3 linked regions of the Homo sapiens genome follow. Each later gene encodes a partner of the first gene's protein in a complex. Each region holds a gene or a part of one and is shown in the gene's direction. Other genes may lie near its edges.

Region 1 (7,111 bases):
TCATCAGACATTCCCCACTATGCTGAAAAAAAGAATAAATTTAAAAAATGGGAGAATGATGAAATTGACTGTGCAATTCAAATAAATTATCACTATTATGTCATCATATAGTTTTCCTATGGTGTTGTCCAAAGCATTACATCTGTTTTTTAAGAAGTTATAAAGTCTTCAGAGACTCTTATGTTTGTAGTTGCTCTGTTTTAATTTTCATTTAATACAATTGAAAATTTCAAAAATTTTTAATTTTTTGCTCATAATGTCTAAAATTGACAGAAAAACATGTTCCACAATTCTTAGACGAATCAGAAGTCAAATGCAAAGAGATAGATAGCTCTCTGGATGCTCATGATGATGATGAAATTGATTGTATAAGCAAAATCTCAGACTGTGAGTCTTCAGATGACAGTGTCTTCAATGAATTTTCTCAAATTCAAGAATCAATGAGTAAACACTGTATCTCCAAGAATTAAAAAGGAATTATGGTGGCCTTCTACAGTCAATCTTTGAAAAAGAACTCATCATGTAATACTTTGTAACAAAAACCTGGAACATCCTGTTTGCTAAAATGAGACGATCATTTTTGTTCTATGATATTTGTGCACCAAAATTAATTTGATGTGTTTTGTAACTGACAAATGCTGAACATAAAGGCAAAGACAACAATGATTGAAAGGAAATTGATTATATAGACATGAAATTGTTTTCTGGATTGATTGTGTTAACTGGTGATTATAAATTTAATAATGAAAATATTTTGCAAGTATAGAGCAAAGAAGATGGCTGGGCCATCCTCTCTTCAATAGAAGTATGAGACATCAGCCGGGCGCAGTGGCTCACCCCTGTAATCCCAGCACTTTGGGAGTCTGAGGCAGGTGGATCACGAGGTCAGGAGATCAAGACCATCCTGGCTAACATGGTGAAACCCCGTCTCTACTAAAAATACAAAAAATTAGCCAGGCGTGGTAGAGGGCACCTGTACTCCCAGCTACTCGGGAGACTGAGGCAGGAGAGTGGAGTCAACCTGGGAGTGAGCCGAGATTGTGCCACTGCACTCCAGCCTGGGCAAGACTCCGCCTCAAAAAAAAAAAAAAAAAGTATGAGACATCAAAGTTTTTTAAAGTATTGCATTTTGGATATGTAAGTACAAGAAGAAGAATTGGAAGTAGTGATAAGCTAGATTCTACTAGAAATGCATTTATAATCTGAAATTATTTAGATGATACACATATGAGAAAACCAGAGGAAATTATAAGTTAGAACCTATTAAAGATGTCTTTGGAATCTGGGATCAGGACGTACAGAAGGCATATATTCTAGGTTTGTATGTGGCAGCCGATGCACAGAAAACTGCATTCAAATGACTTTGCCCATTTTGGTTAAATTTACCTTCAAAATCAGTAAAACATGTAATATAAATTTGGATTTGCTATACTTAATTGCTTAGTAAAATCTCCAATAACTTTATTTATTTATTTTTATTTGAGACAGGATCTCGTTCTGTCACCCAGGCTGGAATGCAGTGGCATAATCTCAGCTCACTGCAGCCTCCACCTCCCAGGCTCAAGTGATCCTCCCACCGTAGCCTCCCAAGTAGCTGGAACCACTGGCATGAGCTACCATGCCCAGCTAATTTTTGCATTTTTTGTAGAGATGGGGGTTTCACCATGTTGCTCAGGCTGGTCTCGAACTCCTGGACTCAAGGGATCCAGCTGCCTTGGCCTCCCAAAGTGCTGGGATTACATCCTGAGCCACTGTGTTGGGCCTAGTTTTATTGATTTTTAAGTAACAGCTTTACTGAGACATAATCCACTATATAAAATTTACTTTTTAAAGTGTACAATTCAGTGACTTTTAATATAGCCACAGAGTTGTGCAATCAACACCACTATTTAATTTTTTTTTTTTTTTTTTTTTTTTTTTTTTTTTTTTTTTTTTTTTTTTGAGACAAGAGTCTTGCTCTGTTACCCAGGCTGGAATGCAGTGGCATTATCTCAGTTCACTGCAACCTCCACCTCCTGGATTCAAGTGATTCTCTTGCCGCAGTCTCCCAAGTAGCTGGGATTACAGGCACGTGCCACCACACATGGCTAATTTTTTTGTGTTTTTAGTATAGATGGGGTTTCACCATGTTGGCCCGGCTGGTCTTGAACTCCTGACCTATTAGCAATCTACCTGCCCCAGCCTCTCAAAGTGCTGGGATTACAGGTGTGAGCCACTGTGCCCAGCCACTATCTAATTTTTTAGATGCTTTTCATCATCTAGAAAAGAAATTCTGTACCCTTTAGTAGTCATTCCCTACTCTCCCTCCTTCCAACCCATGGCACCAGAAATCTGCTTTCTGTCTCTAGAGATTCCATGTCATATAAATGGAATGATGTAACATGTGTCTTTGGCTTCTTTCACTTGCCATAATGTTTTCAAGGTTCATTCATGGCTTAGTACATATGAGTGCTTCATTCCTTTTTATGGCTGAATAATATTCCACTGTATGGATATATGCCACATTTTGTTTATCCACTCATCACTTGATGGGCATTTGGGTCAGTTCACTTTTGGGATTACATGAGTTATCTTGTCATAAACATTCATGTACATGTTTTATGTGAAGACATGTTTTCATTTATATTGGGTATATACATAGGATCATATGGTAACTCTGTATTTCACATTTTGAGGAACTGCCAAACAGTTTTCTAAAGTGGCCACCCGATTTTACATTCCCATCAATAATGTATGAGAGTTCCAATTTTTCCATATCCTTGCCAACATTTCTTATTTTTTTTTTATTCTAGCCATCCTAGTGGTTGTAACACAGTATCTCATTGTGGTTTTGATTTGAATTTCCGTAATGATTGGTGATGTTGGACATCTTTTCATGCTTTTTGTCCATTTTTGTATCTTCTTTAGAGAATTGTCTATTCAAATCCTTTACCTCTTTTTAATTGGGTTCCAATAATTGGTTTTCAATATCTGTTCTTTTATCTGTTATCTTTTTTATTTATTCTCTGTATTTCATTATTTGAAATTAACTTAAAAATATTTTAAAATATAAAAAGTGGTCTACTGTACCCAGAGAAAAAGGGTAAAAACTGTTTTTTTCCGGTATACTGAGGGTTAAAATTATTTAAAATATGGAAACTGTTTTGGAGAAAATTCTTAAAAAGAAGTCATTGTGTTACAAATTCTAGGAATCTCTCATTTGTGCTGACTTCGTTTTATAGATTAAAAACTTGGCAAGATTAGTTAAAACATTTTACCTGAAGTCAAACAGTTAAAATACCTAGAAAAACCTGATCTCTTGGTCTCTGATCTACTACTTATTTTGGTTATCTTTCTCTAATACGTGGTTGTATTATTTGGAAGCATATACTTGACATAGAAGAAAAATCAGTATATATTTGGTCCTTGATTTTTATCCATTCATCTTTAGTATTACCTTCCCTTTTTCATGCCTAACTCCTGAACTACTTTTTATGATGAACATGGCTTCAAGCTTTTGTGTGATAGTGTTGCTTTCCAACTTGTGCTGCTGGAAAAGAGTTTGTGCCCTCCTTAAGGGTGTTTCTTGTGATAAGGTGGACTAGTCTGAATCAAGAGCCGCAGTTATGGCTTTACTGGTTTTGGCAAGCTCAGAGGGTTCCTGCAGAGTTTTCAGCAATTGGCATGTAGGGCTTGCAGCTTGCTCATTTATGCCTCAGATCAGTAACCCCTCACCAAGTCCATCCTTGCCTACCCCTACCCTTTTTCCCATTCTCTTATGTACAAAGGTGGGAAACTCCCTGTATGTAAAATTAAAAATGTTGTCTGTTGTTTTCAATAATCTTAAAGGAATGGCTTAAGTTCAGGGTTACTGTTGATTTTCCTAATGAGTTCTTTATTCTTTTTTCCCCTAGATATTGAAAGGTATAGTAAAAGATACATGAAGGTATACAAGGAAGAATGGATACCAGGTAACTACAAAACACACAATATGAAAACAGTTTTTAAAGGCTGTCTCTCTCACCTCATGTTTTTTTTTTAGAATAAGTTTTCTATTTTTACCATAGGAAAACTGAGTCTGGTTCTTTTATTGTGATTAATTAGTAATCTGTTAGAAACTAAGGTGAAAAGATTTTTATGCTAAAACAAGGAAGAGTTGAAGTGCTTTTGTGGAAGTTCTTAAAATATATATATATGTATATTTTATTTTATTTTATTTATTTTTTTGAGATGGAGTCTTGCTCTGTCGCCCAGGCTGGAGTGCAGTGGCACGATATCGGCTCATTGCAAGCTCCACCTCCAGGGATCATGCCATTCTCCTGCCTCAGCCTCCCGAGTAGCTGGGACTACAGGCCCCCGCCACCATGCCCAGCTAATTTTTTGTATTTTTAGTAGAGACGGAGTTTCACCGTGTTCGCCAGAATGGTCTTGATCTGACCTCATGATCCGCCCGCCTCAGCCTCCCAAAGTGCTGGGATTACAGGCATGAGCCAACACCCCCCACCCTTAATATACATTTTTTACAAAAATAGGACAGGCCAAACAAACCCTTTGAATTTTCCAATTTAATTAGCCACAATCACAATTTTAATTTGTAATACCAGAAAGCACAAATACTATGCTCCTGAGCAATTTTAGAGCATTTGAAGAGAAAGCAAAAATCTCGTTTTAAAGATATTTTAAGCCAAGCTCATGGATCTTCCTTTCTTTTAAGCAGACATAGACTAGTTTTAGTTGTTAGGCTTCTTCAAAAGAACCATATCCAAAAAGAAGCTTTACCTTGGGTATGGACAAGTTAGAAGGGTCTGTAAAGGAGATCTCATCCCACTCATTCATTTTGCAAATAAAAACAGTTGTCATAGAAATAAAGTGACCTGTCAGGCCATGTGGCCAATACTGTTAGAACCCAGGTCTTCTCATTTTAATTCACATTCTTTTTATGTCTCTGTCCTTGGTCTTTTATGGAAACTCCCCTTATGTAAAAACATAGATGGCATTAACAGCCTTATCATTTTCACAGATTATAGTACTATCTTTTCAGTGTTGGTAAGGTTGGGGCACCCTGGAAACAACTTAGGTCTCTCATTTCTTCCGTTTCATTAGTATTCATCTCTCAAATGATTCTCTACATATTCCGTCATGATCTAAAATGAATAGCTTATAAAAACTAAAATATATTCAAAGCAAAATTTATTTTTCAGGTAAAATGACTTGAGATTTAAATGCTTTGTAAAAATGCTCCAAATTTTCTTTAAAAGCAGGCAATATTTTTAAATCAACTTTTATGTTGCTTCCATTTCCTGTTTAACTCTATGCTTAAAAATTAAAAGAAAGTGACACATTAGAGGAATTATTTAGCTAATACAAGCAAAATTATTTATTGGAGGAGATTTGTTTTTGACAGCTATTTATATTTTTAATTTTAAAGTTTTCAGATATTACAATTGTTTATTTCATTTTGCATGTTTTGGGATTATGGTAACATCCTTTTGAAAAAAAAAATTTGTTGCATAAGAAATATATCAACTACAGAATATATCAACTACAGAAAACTTATGAAATATAAAGTGGTCAAATAAATATAAATAATACTTAAGAAAAACTGTCATAATTCCAACACCCACAAATAATTACCATAAGGTTTCCTTCACCAAAAATTTTATAGCACTATTTCAGAGCTATTGTAATAAATTTTCTTTATAGGAGAAAATATATCATTGTCTGTAATATTTGGATTTGGTTTTTATATGTTTCAAGCTAAATTTGTAAAGTCAGATACTAAGGCACTTTATTGTCATTTTCTGGACAACTGTTGTGTCCTTCAAATAGTTATGTTCAATGCCACAAATTCCTAGAGGAAACTGCAATTTTTTATTTTTTATTTTATGTACAGATTGGAGAAGACTTCCAAGAGAGATGATGCCAAGAAATAAATGTAAAAAAGGTACATTGACTAATATAATAGTAATTCAGGTAGGAAAAGGTTATTTCTTACATTCTGTTAATATGGATTTGTCAACCCAAAGTTATACTCACTGTTCTTAATGCTTTTCTTATTTTGAGCCAGACAAGGGATCTCATGCCTGTAATCTCAGCATTTCGGGAGGCTGAGGTGGGAGGATCACTTGAGCCCAGGAGTTTGAGACCAGCCTGGGCAACATAGTGAGAACTTGTCTCTACAAAAAGTTAAAACAAGTATTAGCCAAGTGTGGTGGCATGCACCTGTAGTCCCAGCTACTTGGGGGTCTAAGGTGGGAGGATCACTTGAGCCAAAGAGGCAGAGGCTGCAATTAGCCTAAACTGCACCACTGCACTTAAGCCTGGAAGACAGAGCAAGACCCTGACACTCTGTCTAGGACACTGACTCTCTCCCTCTCTCTGTCCCCCCATGTATGTGTGTGTGTGTGTATATATATGCATTATAACTATTTTGCTAAAGCTTGTTTTTTGTTGTTTGTCTTTTGGGTGTTTTTTTTCTTAGTTGTTGCCTTTTCTTTGTGTATGTCTTATTTTTTAATTTTTAAATGTTTTATCTTTTTTTAAATTTCTGTGTTTATTTTAGATACAGGGGTACATGTGCAGGTTTGTTACATTGGTATATTGCACTCAGGTAGTGAGTGTACTACCTAATAGGTAGTTTGTTAACTCACTCCACCCCGTCCTCCCCTCCCGACTTTAGTAGTTCACTGTGTCTGTTGTTCCCATGTTTATGTCCATGTGTGCTCAGTGTTTAGCGCCCACTTATAAGTGAGAACATGCAATATTTGGTTTTCTGTTCCTGCATTTATTCACTTAGGATTTTCCTTTAGTTATGGAATTGTGGAGCTGCTAAGAAAGACTTTTCAATTATTGTAGACCTTTTCATTTGCATAACTGCAGATTTTTTATTATACTGGCTACATTATAAATTATTAACTAAAACATTTTAAAATTGGGAAACCAATAAAATGGAGCTTTATGTTGTATAGAAGAATGCCAAAGTGAATGTTTACAGTTTGTTTTTCTTTAGTAATTTCATTCAGTAAATAGTTATCTATTATTGCCAGACATTGTGCTGACAGGAATAAAACTGAGCAAAGTGGGAATAATCCTTGTCCTCATGGAGCTTGTAGTCAAATGGGGTAAAATCACT
Region 2 (7,111 bases), on another chromosome or scaffold:
CTAAACATCTAATCACAGAAAAGGTACAGTAAAAATATGGTATGAAAAATTAAAAACCACACCTGTTTAGTGCACTTAACATGAATGGAGCTTTCAGGACTAAAAGTTGCCCTGTGGGAGTTAGTGAATGAATGGCAGATTAATGTGAATGTGATGGTCTACACGCTCAGGCTACACTGTATTTATTAAAAACCAGTAACAGGCTGAGCGGGGTGGCTCACGCCTGTAATCCTAGCACTTTGGGAGGCCCAGGCTGGTGGGTTGCCTGAGCTCAGGCGTTTGAGACCAGCCTGGGCAACATGGTGAAACCCATCTACTAAAATACAAAAAAAAAAAAAAAAATTAGCCGGGCATGGTGGCATGCGCCTGTGGTCCCAGCTACTCGGGAGGCTGAGGCAGGAGAATTGCTTGAACCCAGGAGGCAGAGGTTGCAGTGAGCCAAGATCATACCACTGCACTCCAGCCTCACCACACATGTGAGTAATGTGTTTCACAACGGCATTGTGCTATGATGTTACAACAGCTATGACATCACAAAGCAGTAGGAATTTTTCAGCTCCAGTATAATATGGGACCACAGCTGCACACGGTCCGTTGTTGACTAAAATGTTATATGGTGCATGACTGTGTTTAAATATTCCTATATTTTTATATTGTTTATTTTAAAGTTCTATGGCCAGGTGCAGTGACTCACACTTGTAATCCTAGAACTTTGGGAGGTTGAGGCAGAAGGATCCCTTGAGGCCAGGAGTTGAAGACCAACCTGGGCAACATGACAAGACCCCCGTCTCTACAAAAAATTTTTTTAAAAAATTAGTTGGGTGTGGTGCCATATGCCTGTAGTCACAGCTATTCGAGAGGCTGAGGCAGGAGGATTGCTTGAGCCCAAGAGTTGAGGTTGCAGTCAACTATGATCATGCCACTGCACTCCAGCTTAAACAACAGAGCAAAACCCTATTTCAAAAAAAAAAAAAAAAAAAAAAGGCCGGACGCAGCAGCTCACACCCGTAATCCCAGTACTTTGGGTGGCCGAGGCAGGCAGATCACCTGAGGAGTTCAAGACCAGCATAGTCCAACATGGTGAAACCTCATCTCTACTAAAATTACAGAAATTAGCCAGGCATGGTGATGGGCGCCTGTAATCCCAGCTACTTGGGAGGCTGAGGCAGGAGAATCGCTTGAACCCGGGAATGGGAGGTTGCAGTGAGCTGAGATCGCACCACTGCACTCTAGCCTGGGAAACAGAGTGAGACTCTGTCTCAAAAAAAAAAAAAAAGTTTGGTATATATCTTTATTCAGACCTTGCATACTCTAACATATATGTGGGTATATGTATTTTTTAACCCCAAAATGGGACTATTCATATGGCTTTTTGGTTGGGTTTTGTTTGTTTGTTTTTGTTTTTTTGTGACAGAGTCTTGTACTCTTTCACCCAGGCTGGAGTGCAGTAGCGCAATCTCAGCTCACTGCAACCTCCGCCTCCTGGGTTCAAGGCATTCTCCTGCTCATCCTTCCGAGTAGCTGAGATCACAGGCACATGCCACCACGCCAGGCTAATTTTTGTATTTTTAGTAGAGACAGGGTTTCACTGTGTTGGCCAGGCTGGTCTCGAACTCCTGACATCAAGTGATCCTCCCACCTCAGCCTCTCAAAGTGCTGGCATTACAAAGTCGTGATCCACCACACCCAACCTAGTCATACTGTTCTATAACTTGATTTTTTATATGACAGTGTATGTAAAACTTCCTTTCATGTTAGTTTCTGTAGATTTGTCTCACTCTTCATAATGACTGTATCATATTCCACTTAATGGCCGTGCTATATTTTATTTTAGTGTACTCGGTACTGGTCATTTGGGTGTTTCTAGTTTTTTACTCTTACAAACAATCCTGCTGTGAATATTTTTGGACAGTTTTGTGGTAACTAAAATTAAAACTTTTTTTTTTTTTTTTTTGAGACGGAGTTTCGCCCTTGTAGCCCAGGCTGGAGTCCATTGGCGCAATCTCGGCTCACTGCAACCTCTGCCTCCCAGGTTCAAGCAGTTCTCCTGCCTCAGCCTCCCAAATAGCTGGGATTACAGGCATGCGCCACCACGTCCAGCTAATTCTGTATTTTTACTAGAGACGGGGTTTCACCATATTGGTCAGGCTGGTCTCCAACTCTTGACCCAAAGTGATCCACCTGCCTCAGCCTCCCAAAGTGTTCGGATTACAGGCCTTAGCCACTGTGCCCGGCCTAAAACATCTTTATTTCAGTAAGGTCAGGAGTTCTAAGTTCCCAAACCCATTTTAAGTGTCCTTTGCTCCATAGATCTTCAGATCCCTACCTGTTGGCTATAACATCTCTAAGCAAGTTCTTGATCAGTATCTCACTCTGCTGGCAGATGATCCAGTAAGTCTGTTTTTGCTTTTTTTCTTTTTTCTTTAGCCTGTACTGTTGATAATTTATTTCTGCACTGATACCTAGTGTCATCCTCCTGCAGAGTTATTCTCTACCTAGCCAGCCCAGACAATTTCTCCACATCATTTGATAGGAGGGCTACCTGCTGCAGACTTTTGGTCAGATTTGTTCCATTGGAAACAGAATCACTGGACTTTCCGTTCAGTTAACACTCTCTCTTTTTCTTAATAGCTAGAGTTTGTTGGAAAGTCTGGCGACAGTGGTGGAGGAATGTATGTCATCAGTATCCTTACCAGTTATTTCCTTAGAGTCAGGCAGCCTGACCTATAAATCAGAATGGTGCCTTAGGAAAGAAAGATTTGGTAATGTTTATTATACTAAATAAATTAGAAAATTGAAGTAATTGTTAAATAAATTTTTCTATGAATTTTCAGTGAACTGCATTGATGATGAAGTAAAAAGAGGCCAGGCATGGTGGACTTTGGGAGGCTGAGGCAGGTGAATTGCATGAACCCAGGAGTTCAAGATCAGCTAAGCAACATGGCAAAACCCCATCTCTACCAAAAATACAAAAACTAGCCAGCTGTAACGATGCATGCTTGTAGTCCAGCTCCTCAGGAGGCTGAGGTGGGAGGATCGCTAGAGCCCAGGAGACAGACGTTGCAGTAAGCTGAGATCATGCCACTGTACTCCAACCTGGGTGACCCTGTCTCAAAAAAGAAAAGGAAAAAGGACTTTTAATCAACCAAATTTTAGTTAAGCAAAACCCTTACTTAAACACTTGTATTAAAGTTTTGGAATATTTATGTACCATGACTGAAACCATAAATTATAACATGAAAAACAAAATAGCATTTAAAATTTAATTATAAATTAGAAACTTAGGAATAAAACTCAGATCACAATAACTAGGCCAAAACATTACTGAGTGACCTTAATTCTCTACATAAAGACCTCCATAAGGCATTAGCATCCCTAGCCACAGCCACTCTGGAGTCCGTCGTACAGGAGAGGTAAGGGGGACACTGGTTGGGTTTGGGATCACATACTTCCTATCCCCAGTGAAGTAATTTGATCATTATGTAAGCCACCAATATAACCACACCTTGGCATACTTTTCCCCATTTTTTCACTGGACTCCTATGGATCTCATGTAATACTGCTCTTTACCTTAAAATAACCTACTGTTTAATTCCTACCGATGCAAATTAACCAGCCTCCCTAAAGCCTTTGCTTACAAATGTAGGAACTGTGGCACTCAAATGAGTCAGCAGTTGGTGACTGCCTTATGATTAACAGCAGTTGGTGATGCCTTACCATCACCAACCTATGGAGCTGTAGAATAATTTTCTGATCACTGTTCCTGTCTGGTACTGGCTTCACACATGGAATAGAACAACCACCCCATCTATGACTGGGAACTAAAGCTGATCTATGTTAGCATGCCATTTGCTTTCTTCATTCCTTTCCAGATTTGGGTCTCGCTGTGCTAGAATATTCCGTCTAGTTTTGCAGAAGAAACACATAGAGCAGAAGCAAGTGGAAGACTTTGCAATGATTCCTGCAAAGGAGGCAAAGGATATGCTATATAAGATGCTCTCAGAAAATTTCATGTCACTCCAGGTAACCAACCAAGGGCGTAATAATTGCCAACCAGCAAAGCTGGCCTAGGGTGAGAGAAGCTTCTTAGGCAAACATACTGAACCCCCAAGCAAACTCTATATCCAGCTCTGAGACAGAAAAACATGATTCACAGAGACATAGCGAGCACTTGGAGGATAATTTGGGGCCTTAACTGCCCTAGTGAGAAAGAGGTGGCCGGGCACGGTGGTTCGCGCCTGTAGTCCCAGCACTTTGGGAGGCCAAGGTGGGCAAATCACTTGAGGTCAGGAGTTCGAGACCAGCCTGGCCAACATGGTGAAACTCCGTCTCTAATAAAATACAAAACAATTAGCTGGGCCTGGTGGCACACGCCTATAGTCCCAGCTGCTCGGGAGGCTGAGGCAGGAAGGAGACTCTCTTGAACCCAGGAGGGGGAGGTTGCAGTGAGCCGAGATCAAGCCACTGCACTCTAGCCTGAGCAACAGAGTGAGACTCTGTCTCAAAAAACAAAAAAAACAAAAAACAAAAAAGAGGCAGAGCCAGGACATCACCCCAAACCCACCCTGCCTTTTTTTCTCTTCTCATTTCTGTCCTTCCTTAAGCCTTAATTCTGTTATAGTTTAAATTTATCAACACATCTAACTGAGTCTTTGCAGGGCTATTTAGTAGAGCATATGAGTAAATAGATAGAATGGATTTTTGGAGTCAGATTACAGCTCTGCCTTACCCAGTTACATTAAGCAAGTTACCACGTTTCCCATCTATAAAACAGTGATGGATGGTGATAATAAAAATAATATGGTTGCCAGGTGCGGTGGCTCATGCCTGTAATCCCAGCACTTTGGGAGGCCTAGGCGGACGGATCACTTGAGGTCAGGAATTCGAGAATAGCCTGGCCAACCTGGTGAAACCCTGTCTCTACTAAAAATACAAAAATTAGCTGGGCGTGGTGCCGTGTGTCTGTAATCCCAGCTACTCAGGAGGCTGAGGAAGGAGAATTGCTTGAACCTGGGAGGCAGAGGTTGCAGTGAGCCAACATTGTGCCACTGCACTCCAGCCTGGGCAACAGAGCAAGACTCTGTCTCAAAAATAATAATAATACGACTTTTTGTAAAGATCAAATAGAATTTACCTGGCACATAGAGTTGTTCAGTAAATGTTAGTTGCCCTCCCTTTCTTCCCCAGCTCAGGATGCTGACAGTCAAATGGAAAAAACAGGGAAGCCCAGCTCTCCATTTGACTGATTATGACATAAACCACAAAGACTGGGCCGGGCACACCTGTATTCTCAGCACTTTGGGAAACCAAGGCGGGATGATCACTTGAGCCCAGGAATTCAAGACCAGCCTGGAAAATATAGTGAGACCATGTCTCCACCACCCCCAAAAGATTAAAAAATTAGCGGAGCATGGTGGTGCATGCCTGTAGTTCCGGCTACTTGGGGGACTGAGGTGGGAGGATTGCTTGAGCCGGAGGTGGAAGTTGCAGTGAGCTGATATCATGCCACCGCACTCCATCCTAGGTAACAGAGCAAGACCCAGTCTCAAAATAAATAAATAAAATAAACACAGGTACTGAATGACTAGGAAACAGGAAAGTGTAAGTAAAAAGGAGGGCTAAGTAACTCCAGGTAGAATGAGTGTGTGCTTTGCCAGTTCTAAAACAGTATAATTTCTGCTATTTTTCTTTCTATTGGACAAATAGGAAATTCCCAAAACACCAGACCATGCCCCATCCAGGACCTTCTATTTATATACTGTGAACATCCTGTCAGCTGCCCGAATGTTGTTGCACAGGTGCTACAAGGTAACTCAATCTGGACCTTCTCCCCATTTCCTCCATACGGTCAAGTACCCCTCATGTGCCCACTTCGCCCTGAGCTGCTGAAATAGAACTATGTGCATTCCTTGTCTGTCTTCTCTTTCCTCAGAGCATAGCCAACTTGATAGAAAGGAGGCAATTTGAAACCAAAGAGAATAAGTAAGTAACATTTTCAGTTGAGTTATTTACATCTTTCAAGATCAAGGGCCTCAGGGGAAATTTCCTCTAGAAATAGGAATCAATAGACGCTGGGCCTGGCAGGGTGGCTCATGCCTGTAATCCCAGCACTTCGGGAGGCTGAGGCAGGTGGATCACTTGAGGTCAGGAGTTTGAGACCAACCTGGCCAACATGGTGAAACCCTGTCTTCACTAAAAATACAAAAATTAGCTGGGCATGGTGGCGGGCACCTATAGTCCCAGCTACTCGGGAGGCTAAGGCAGGAGAATCACTTAAACCCAGTGAGTGGAGGTTGCAGTGAACCAAGATCACGCCACTGCACTCCAGCCTGGGCGACAAAGTGAGACTCCATCTCAAAAAAAAAAATTTTTTTTTTGAGAAGTAGGAACCAGTAGAGATAGCAACCAGTCTACTTGCATTGAATCATTGGCTTAGATTAGTGTAAATCATGCATTAGTCTACACTTTTCTAACATGCTCCCAGTGAAATAATTTTTCAGATTAAATTTGTGAGAAACGTACAAAAGCACCAAACTTTTAAGTGCAAATGAGAGGCAATAAGAATTTCAGGAGTGAAGTTATATTTCCAAATAAGTTTGTAGAAAATGTCCTTAGAAGGTGACATTATCTACTTTGATCAGGAAAATGGTAAAGGGTGGTGGGTAGTGCCTCAGACACACGTGGTAAGAGAATCTCCCAGGTTAGGGAAGATGTCTCAGAGTTGTGTTTGTTTGACAGGCGTCTACTAGAAAAATCTCAGAGGGTAGAAGCCATCATTGCATCTATGCAGGCTACTGGTGCAGAGGAAGCACAGTTACAAGAAATAGAGGAGATGATCACAGCTCCTGAACGTCAGCAGCTAGAGACCCTGAAACGTAATGTCAACAAGTAAGCATCATAAACTTCAGACCTGCATTTCAGAATACCATCCAGAAAATCCATTTTGACCTCCTGTAACCCTCCAGCTTAGCATGAGCAAACCTAAACTCACTGTCTCCTCCAGCTCACTTAACAGAATTTAATCCACCTATTTTTGTAAACTAGCAATTCTGAAGATGTTCTGAGCTTCTTCTCCATCACCATATACACTCTCTTGTTCATCAAGTACTGA
Region 3 (6,983 bases), on another chromosome or scaffold:
CCAATCCCTCGGCCTCGTGTGCTTTTCCCTCACCCACTTCAAAGGCCCGTGGCTTTGGGACGCCTCTCCACCTCATTAGTCATTCCCTCCCCTGCCCATCGCGTCGAAACACAATGCATTGTGGTTATTTATGTCCAGAGCTGGTTCCTCAACTAGGCTGTCAGCTAGCCAGTGCAGAGGGTGTGTGTTAGTCACATTTGTATCATCAGCCCCCGATGGGCCATGGCTACATACTTGTTGAGTGAATAACACAAGGGGCATCTTTAGCATTTCTTTGTGGGGCCCAATCTCCTCAGCGAAGGTACAGGGAATTCTCCACACTAACTAGGCCAGCTGGGTCTGGGTGGCATTTTATGACTTTTTTGTTGTCGTTATTTTGCGATGGAGTCTTGCTCTGTCACCCAGGCTGGAGTGCAGTGGCGTGATCTGCAACCTCCGCCTCCCAGATTCAGACGATGCTCCTGCCTCAGCCTCCTGAGTAGCTACGATTACAGGCACGAGCCATCAAGCTGGTTAATTTCTATTTTTTTGGTAAAGATGAGGTTTCACCATGTTGCCCATGCTGGTCTCAAACTGGGCTCAAGCGATCCACCTGCCTTCATCTTCCAAAGTGCTGGGATTACAGGTGTGGACCACCACACTCAGCAGAGTAAAAAATGTTTAACAGCTTTATTAATATAGGATTAATATGCTGTACAATATGCCATTTAAAGTATACAACTCAGTGTCTTCAGTATATTCACAGGGTTGTGCAACCACCACCACCATCTATAATAATTTTAGACAATTTCTGTTTCCCAAAGAGAAACTCCCTACTTATTAGCAATCACTTCCCATCCTTGCCCCCAACCTAGCCTTCTGTCTGTATCCATAGATTGGCCTCTTCTTGGACATTCTATATAAAGTGAATCATACCATATGTATTCTTTTTTTTTTTTTTCTAGAAGGAGTCTCATTCTGTCACCCAGGCTGGAGTGCAGTGGCGTGATCTCGGCTCACTGCAACCTCCGCCTCCTGGGTTCAAGCAATTTTCCTGCCTCAGTCTCCCGAGTAGCTGGGATTACAGGTGCCCCCCACCACACCCAGCTACTTTTTGTATTTTTAGTAGAGACGGGGTTTCACCATGTTGGCTAGGCTGGTCTCGAACTACTGACCTCATGATCTGCCTGCCTCAGTCTCCTAAAGTGCTGGGATTACAGGCGTGAGCCACCACGCCTGGCGATTTTTGTATTTTCGGTAGAGACAGGGTTTCCCCATGTTAGCCAGGCTGGTCTTGAACTCCTGATCTCAGATGATCCACCCACCTCAGCCACCCAAAGTGCTGGGATTACAGGCGTGAGCCACCTGGCCAGGCAATATATATTATTTTGTGTCTGGCTTCTTTCACTTATTAATAGCATCATGTTTTGGGAGGTTATCCATCTTGCAGCATTTATCTATCAGTCTGTCTATATATATTTTTTGCAACAAGGTCTCTCACTCTGTAGGCTGGAGTGCAGTGGTGTGATCATAGTTCCCTGCAGCCTCTACCTTCTGGCTCAAGCGATTCTCCTACCTCAGCCTCCCCAGTAGCTGGGACTAGAGGTGCTCACCACCACACCTGGCTAACTTTTCGTAGTTAGGGGGTCTAGCTATGTTGCCCAGGCTGCTCTGGAACTCCTTGTCTCAAGAAATCCTCCTGCCTCTGCTCCCCAAAGTGCTGAGATCAAGCCTGGCCTCCTTTTTATTTTTATATTTTTGAGACAGAGTCTTGCCCTGTCTTCCAGGCTGGAGTGCAGTGGCACGATCTTGGCTCACTGCAAGCTCTGCCTTCTGGGTTCACGCCATTCTCCTGCCTCAGCCTCCCTAGTAGCTGGGACTACAGGCGCCCACCACCACGCCCGGCTAATTTTTTTTGTATTTTTAGTAGAGACGGGGTTTCACCCTGTTAGCCAGGATGGTCTCGATCTCCTGACATCGTGATCTGCCCGCCTCGGCCTCCCAAAGTGCTGGGATTACAGGCGTGAGCCACCGTGCCCGGCCAGCCTCCTTTTTAAGTAGTTTTCCATTGCACAAATGTAGCACATTTTATTCATCCACTCATCAGTCTCTAGTTAATGCATCTGTTGTATATGTTCAGATTGGCTGGGGTTCAATACCCACTGGACAACTTCCTAGATGAGTGACTTTTGGTAAATCATAATCTCTCCAAGTCTGCCTCAGTTTCTTCAATTATAAAATGTCAATAATAATGCAATGTACCTCATAGAGAGTCATGGTTGTATTGCCACAGTAATTAATAAAGTGCCAGGAACTTTATAAGGATTATTTAACACCCTTATTATTTACAAAGTAGGCAACAGAGGCTATTGTGGTGGTTCACACCTGTAATCCCAGCACTTTGGGAGTTGGAGGTGGGAGGATCACTTGAGGCGAGGAGTTCAAGACCAGCCTGGGCAACACAGTGAGACCCCCATCTCTACAAAAAAATTAAAAAATTTTGTAGCTGACTCTTTGGACAATAAAGAATTTTATTTTAGAAAATTAGCCAGGTGGCTGGGTGCAGTGGCTCACGCCTGTAATCCCAACACTTTGGGAGGCTGATGAGGGTGGATCACAAGGTCAGGAGTTCAAGACCAGCTTGGCCAAGATGGTGAAACCCCGTCTCTACTAAAAAAATACAAAAATTAGCTGGGCATTATGGCGGGCACCTGTAATCCTAGCTACTGGGGAGGCTGAGGCAGGGAACTGCTTGAATCCAGGAGGCAGAGGTTGCAATGAGCCGAGATCACGACACTGCACTCCAGCCTGGGCAACAGAGTGAGACTGATCTCAAAAAAAAAAAAAAAGAAAAAGAAAAAGAAAAAAAGAAAATTAGCCAGGTGTAGCGGAGCGCACCTGTGGTCCCAGCTACTCTGGCAGGCTGGGGTGGGAGGATTGCTTGAGCCCAGGAGTTCAAGGCTGCAGTGAGCTCTGATTGCACCACTGCATTCCAGCCTGGGCGACAGAGCAAGACCCTGTCTCTTAAAAAATAAATAAATAAACTGCAATGTTTCTGGCAGCCCAGATGCCACCAGCCTCACTACTCTCTGAGAGGTGGGATTTTAACATGCAAAGGCCCACTAACCCGATCACGTCTCACAACTTCAGCTGATTAATACTTTGTTAAAACCTAGACCACGAAAACAGACAGAGCCCGGCGAGGTGGCTCACGCCTGTAATCCCAACACTTTGGGAGGCCGAAGCGGGTGGATCACGAGGTCAGGAGTTCAAGACTAGCCTGGCCAAGATGATGAAACCCCGTCTCTACTAAAAAATACACAAATTAGCTAGGCGTTATGGCGGGCGCCTGTAATCCCAGCTACTCGGGAGGCTGAGGCAGGGAATTGCTTGAACCTGGGAGGCAGAGATTGCAGTGAGCCGAGATCGTGCCACTGCACTCCAGCCTGGGTGACAGAGCGAGACTCTGTCTCAAAAAAGAAAAAAAGAGGCTGGGCACGGTGCCTCACGCCTGTAATCCCAGGACTTTGGGAGGCCGAGGCGGGCGGATCACGAGGTCAGGAGATTGAAACCATCCTGGCTAACACGGTGAAACCCCGTCTCTACTAAAAACACAAAAAATTAGCCGGGCTTGGTGGCAAGCGCCTGTAGTCCCAGCTACTTGGGAGGCTGAGGCAGAAGGAGAATCGCTTGAACCCAGGAGGCGGAGGTTGCAGTAAGCCGAGATCCAGCCTGGGCGACAGAGCGAGACTCCGTCTCAAAAAAAAAAAAAGGTTAAAGAAAAAAAGAAAAGAAAACACAAGATAATCCTGTCCGCAAACGCTTAGCAGTCTTAAATCGGCCTGGTGGAAGGATGCAGGGACACTCCCCCACCCTGCCCCCCGAAAAAGGGGAACGCGCAGCGCGAGGTTCCGGGTCCGCCAAGCTCCCGGCATGCAGCGCGGCGATCCCGGCGAGCACCTTGGCGCGCGGAGCTGGCACCTTGGCGCTGTTGGTGGCGGCGGAGACAGCTGTGAAGTGTGAGGTTCTTTGTCTGCTGGCAGCTAGGGGCGACGAGGCGGGACGTCATGGAAGTGTAAGTCTTCTCGGGCGCGTCCCTTTTCGCCCGAGGAGCCCAACGGTTTGACCGCTGAGAGCTGAGAGCCGAGAGCCGTGGGGACTGGGCGACCCTCGTACGGGAGTGAGGGCAGCGGGCCGGCCCTGTCCGGGAGGGCCGCGGGGTGGTGACGGGGACGAACGGGACTCTCGCTTTGCCCTTCCGAACCTTCGCTTCCCCTCCACGCCGTGTCTGGTGCGGGGCCGAGCACTTCCGTGTCCGGCTGCCTTTCAATGTGCCCCCTCCTTCTCTCATTCGTTTACCAGCGTTTCTGGGTCACAGTGCGGGGGTGGAGCCCAGTCTGGTATCCGACCCCGGACTTAGAAGGCTATAAAGGCCTGAGTCTGTCCGCCCTGAAAGTAGGTGGAGGAGAGACGAATCAGGGCCGGGTAGAGCTCTGCTTGCAGCTGTAGGCCCCTGGAGAGCCCTCGGAAGAGCTGCCCTCGGAATTTGATGGGAGCAGTAAACACTGTGAGGGAAGGGGCTGGTTTTGGGGTGGAGAAGGGAAGGACGTGAACCAGGACTGGGACCAGAGAAACAGCAGGGGGTGTGTGGGTGTGTGTGCAAGGCGAGGGTAAAAGATTTTCTGACAGTTTAACTCCACGTGGTCTTTTCCATGCTTGCTCGTTGCGCCTGGTGCAAATGGAAGATTTTGCATCTACTCTGAATGTGGGCTTTATACGGTTGATATTAATTTGTAGGTATTACTATCTTGTGTTCTCTTTGAACTGATTATTTGATACAGTTTCCTTTATGTTCTTTTGCCTCATGTTTAATGGTTATATGTACTATGGCATTTCACATTTTTACATTTTTAATTAATTGTTTTTTCTTAAGAAACAGGGTCTTGCTCTGTCCCCCAGGCGGGGTGTAATCATGGTTCACTGCAGCCTCACTTTCTGGACTCAAGCAATCCTGCTTCAGCCTCTTCAGTAGCTGGGACTACAGGCCCACGCCATCACTCACCGCTAATTTTTTAAAAAAAGTTTTGTAGATGCAGGGTCTCACTACAGCCCAGGCTGGTCTCCAGCTCCTGAGCTCAAGTGATCCTCCTGCTTTGTACTCCCAAAGTCCTGGGATTGCAGGCGTGAGCCACTTCACCTGGCCTCTTCCGATTTTTTTTTAAACACAATATGTCTGTGTAACTGAAATGAAAGGCTCATGAAACAATAATGTGTGGCGTACACTCTCATATTGTCTATTTTTTATTAATATGAATGGGGCCAACCGTGGTGGCTCACACCAGCAATCCCAGCACTTTGGGAAGCTTAGGCAGAAGGATCACTTGAACCTGGGAGGTGGAGACCAGCCTGGGCAACATAGGGAGACCCTGTCTCTGCAAAAAATTAAGAAGTTAGCTGGGTGTGGTGGTTCATGCCTGTAGTCTCAGCTACTTACGAGGCTGAGATGGGAGGATCACTTGATCCCAGGAGGCTGCAATGAGCTGAGATAGAGCCACTACACTCCTGCCAGAGTGACAGTGTAAGGCTCTGTCTTAAAAAAAAAAAAAAAAAAAAATTGAACCACTGAATTAATTTTGCAACCCACTGATGGGATTTCATCTGCAACCTAAAAAACTATTCATATAATTTACTCTAGTCCAAGCCATCATTACTAATTTTTCCCTCTTTACTAGAGCATTTCCTGTGAGCATACAACCCTGCTTTAGAGAATTCATCTTAGAAAATCCTCCGTCCCCACATACATGTCCCCCTCTTACTCCATTTCTGCTTCCCATCCCAACAAAACTTCTTGAAAGTGCTGATTAGCCCCTCATTCTCTCAGCCATTCTGTTGGGCTTTCATCCTCACTGGTCTACGGGAATGACTGTTAAGATTACCTGAACCAGCGGGGCGTGGTGGCTCATGCCTATAATCGCAGCACTTTAGGAGGCCGAAGTGGGCGAATCCCCTGAGGTCAGGAGTTTGAGACCAGCCTGGCCAACATGGCATAACCTCCTCTCTACTAAAAATACAAAAATTAACTGGGTGTAGTGGTGGGCGCCTGTAATCCCAGTAACTCAGGAGGCTGAGGCAGGAGAATCGCTTGAACTCGGGAGGCAGGGGTTGCAGTGAACCAAATTGTGCCACTGCACTCCAGCCTAGGTGACAGGGCAAGACTGTCTCAAAAAAAAAAAAAAAAAAAACCTGATCCCTCCATCTTGTCAAATTCAGAGGTTGATTTTCTGGCCTCAACTTTCTTGATCTCTCAGCAGTGGTTAATACAGAAACTCTAGAAACTTTCCTTTTCTTGTGATGTATGTTCCTTTGCGTATTTCCTCCTACATCAAGGACTACTTCAGTGTCCTTCCCTGGGTCCCGTTCCTCTCTTGCTTGATGTCTAAGTGTTGAGTGGTATCTTAGGGCTCAGTCCTGGGACCCTTTCTCTCCACACTCTGTCATTTCACCCATCTATGTGCTGATGGTTCTCAAAGGTATGTTTCTAACCTTCTTCTCATCATCTATCCAATTGCATAGACCAAAAATCTAGCCCTCTCTCTTCACTCCCTAAATCCAGTCCATCAGTGGTCCTGTTGTTTCCACCCTAGAATATATTTTGAATGCAGTTACTTTTCACCATCTCCAATGTTAGCTTTGTAGTCCATCACCTCTGGGCTGGATTAAGCAATAGCCTTTGAGTGTTCACTCTTCCCCAGCCTCCATTCTGTTCTCCACATGGCAACTGGAGTGATCTTAAGTAATGATTGGAACATGTCGCTCCTGGGTAAAACCCTTCATTGACTTTCCATTGTACTTAGAGAAAATCTCCATCTCTTACCAGGACCTGCAAGACCCTGTAAAACCTCACCTACTCCCCAGCCTTACCACTTGCCACTCTCCCAACCTCCCAGACACACACTTTCCACTGACAGGTATTTCCTTCTCCTCTAACCTTCTAAGCACTTCCT

Evidence for each region.
Region 2: POLR3G (region 1) and POLR3C share a complex: the UniProt entries of both Homo sapiens proteins name them as parts of the RNA polymerase III complex.
Region 3: POLR3G (region 1) and CRCP share a complex: the UniProt entries of both Homo sapiens proteins name them as parts of the RNA polymerase III complex.

The regions. Positions count from the first base shown.
Region 1 is NC_000005.10:90,491,784-90,498,894, forward strand, and holds part of POLR3G (DNA-directed RNA polymerase III subunit RPC7), read left to right. Parts: intron 1-3,893; coding exon 3,894-3,950; intron 3,951-5,872; coding exon 5,873-5,923; coding exon of another isoform or gene 5,924-5,952; intron 5,953-7,111. UniProt on the Homo sapiens protein: DNA-dependent RNA polymerase catalyzes the transcription of DNA into RNA using the four ribonucleoside triphosphates as substrates.
Region 2 is NC_000001.11:145,834,184-145,841,294, forward strand, and holds part of POLR3C (DNA-directed RNA polymerase III subunit RPC3), read left to right. Parts: intron 1-2,310; coding exon 2,311-2,391; intron 2,392-2,631; coding exon 2,632-2,683; intron 2,684-2,834; coding exon of another isoform or gene 2,835-2,837; exon of another isoform or gene 2,838-3,308; intron 3,309-3,352; coding exon 3,353-3,413; intron 3,414-3,872; coding exon 3,873-4,023; intron 4,024-5,706; coding exon 5,707-5,808; intron 5,809-5,932; coding exon 5,933-5,982; intron 5,983-6,738; coding exon 6,739-6,888; intron 6,889-7,111. UniProt on the Homo sapiens protein: DNA-dependent RNA polymerase catalyzes the transcription of DNA into RNA using the four ribonucleoside triphosphates as substrates.
Region 3 is NC_000007.14:66,110,917-66,117,899, forward strand, and holds the start of CRCP (DNA-directed RNA polymerase III subunit RPC9), read left to right. Parts: upstream 1-3,998; 5' UTR 3,999-4,046; coding exon 4,047-4,054; intron 4,055-6,983. UniProt on the Homo sapiens protein: DNA-dependent RNA polymerase catalyzes the transcription of DNA into RNA using the four ribonucleoside triphosphates as substrates.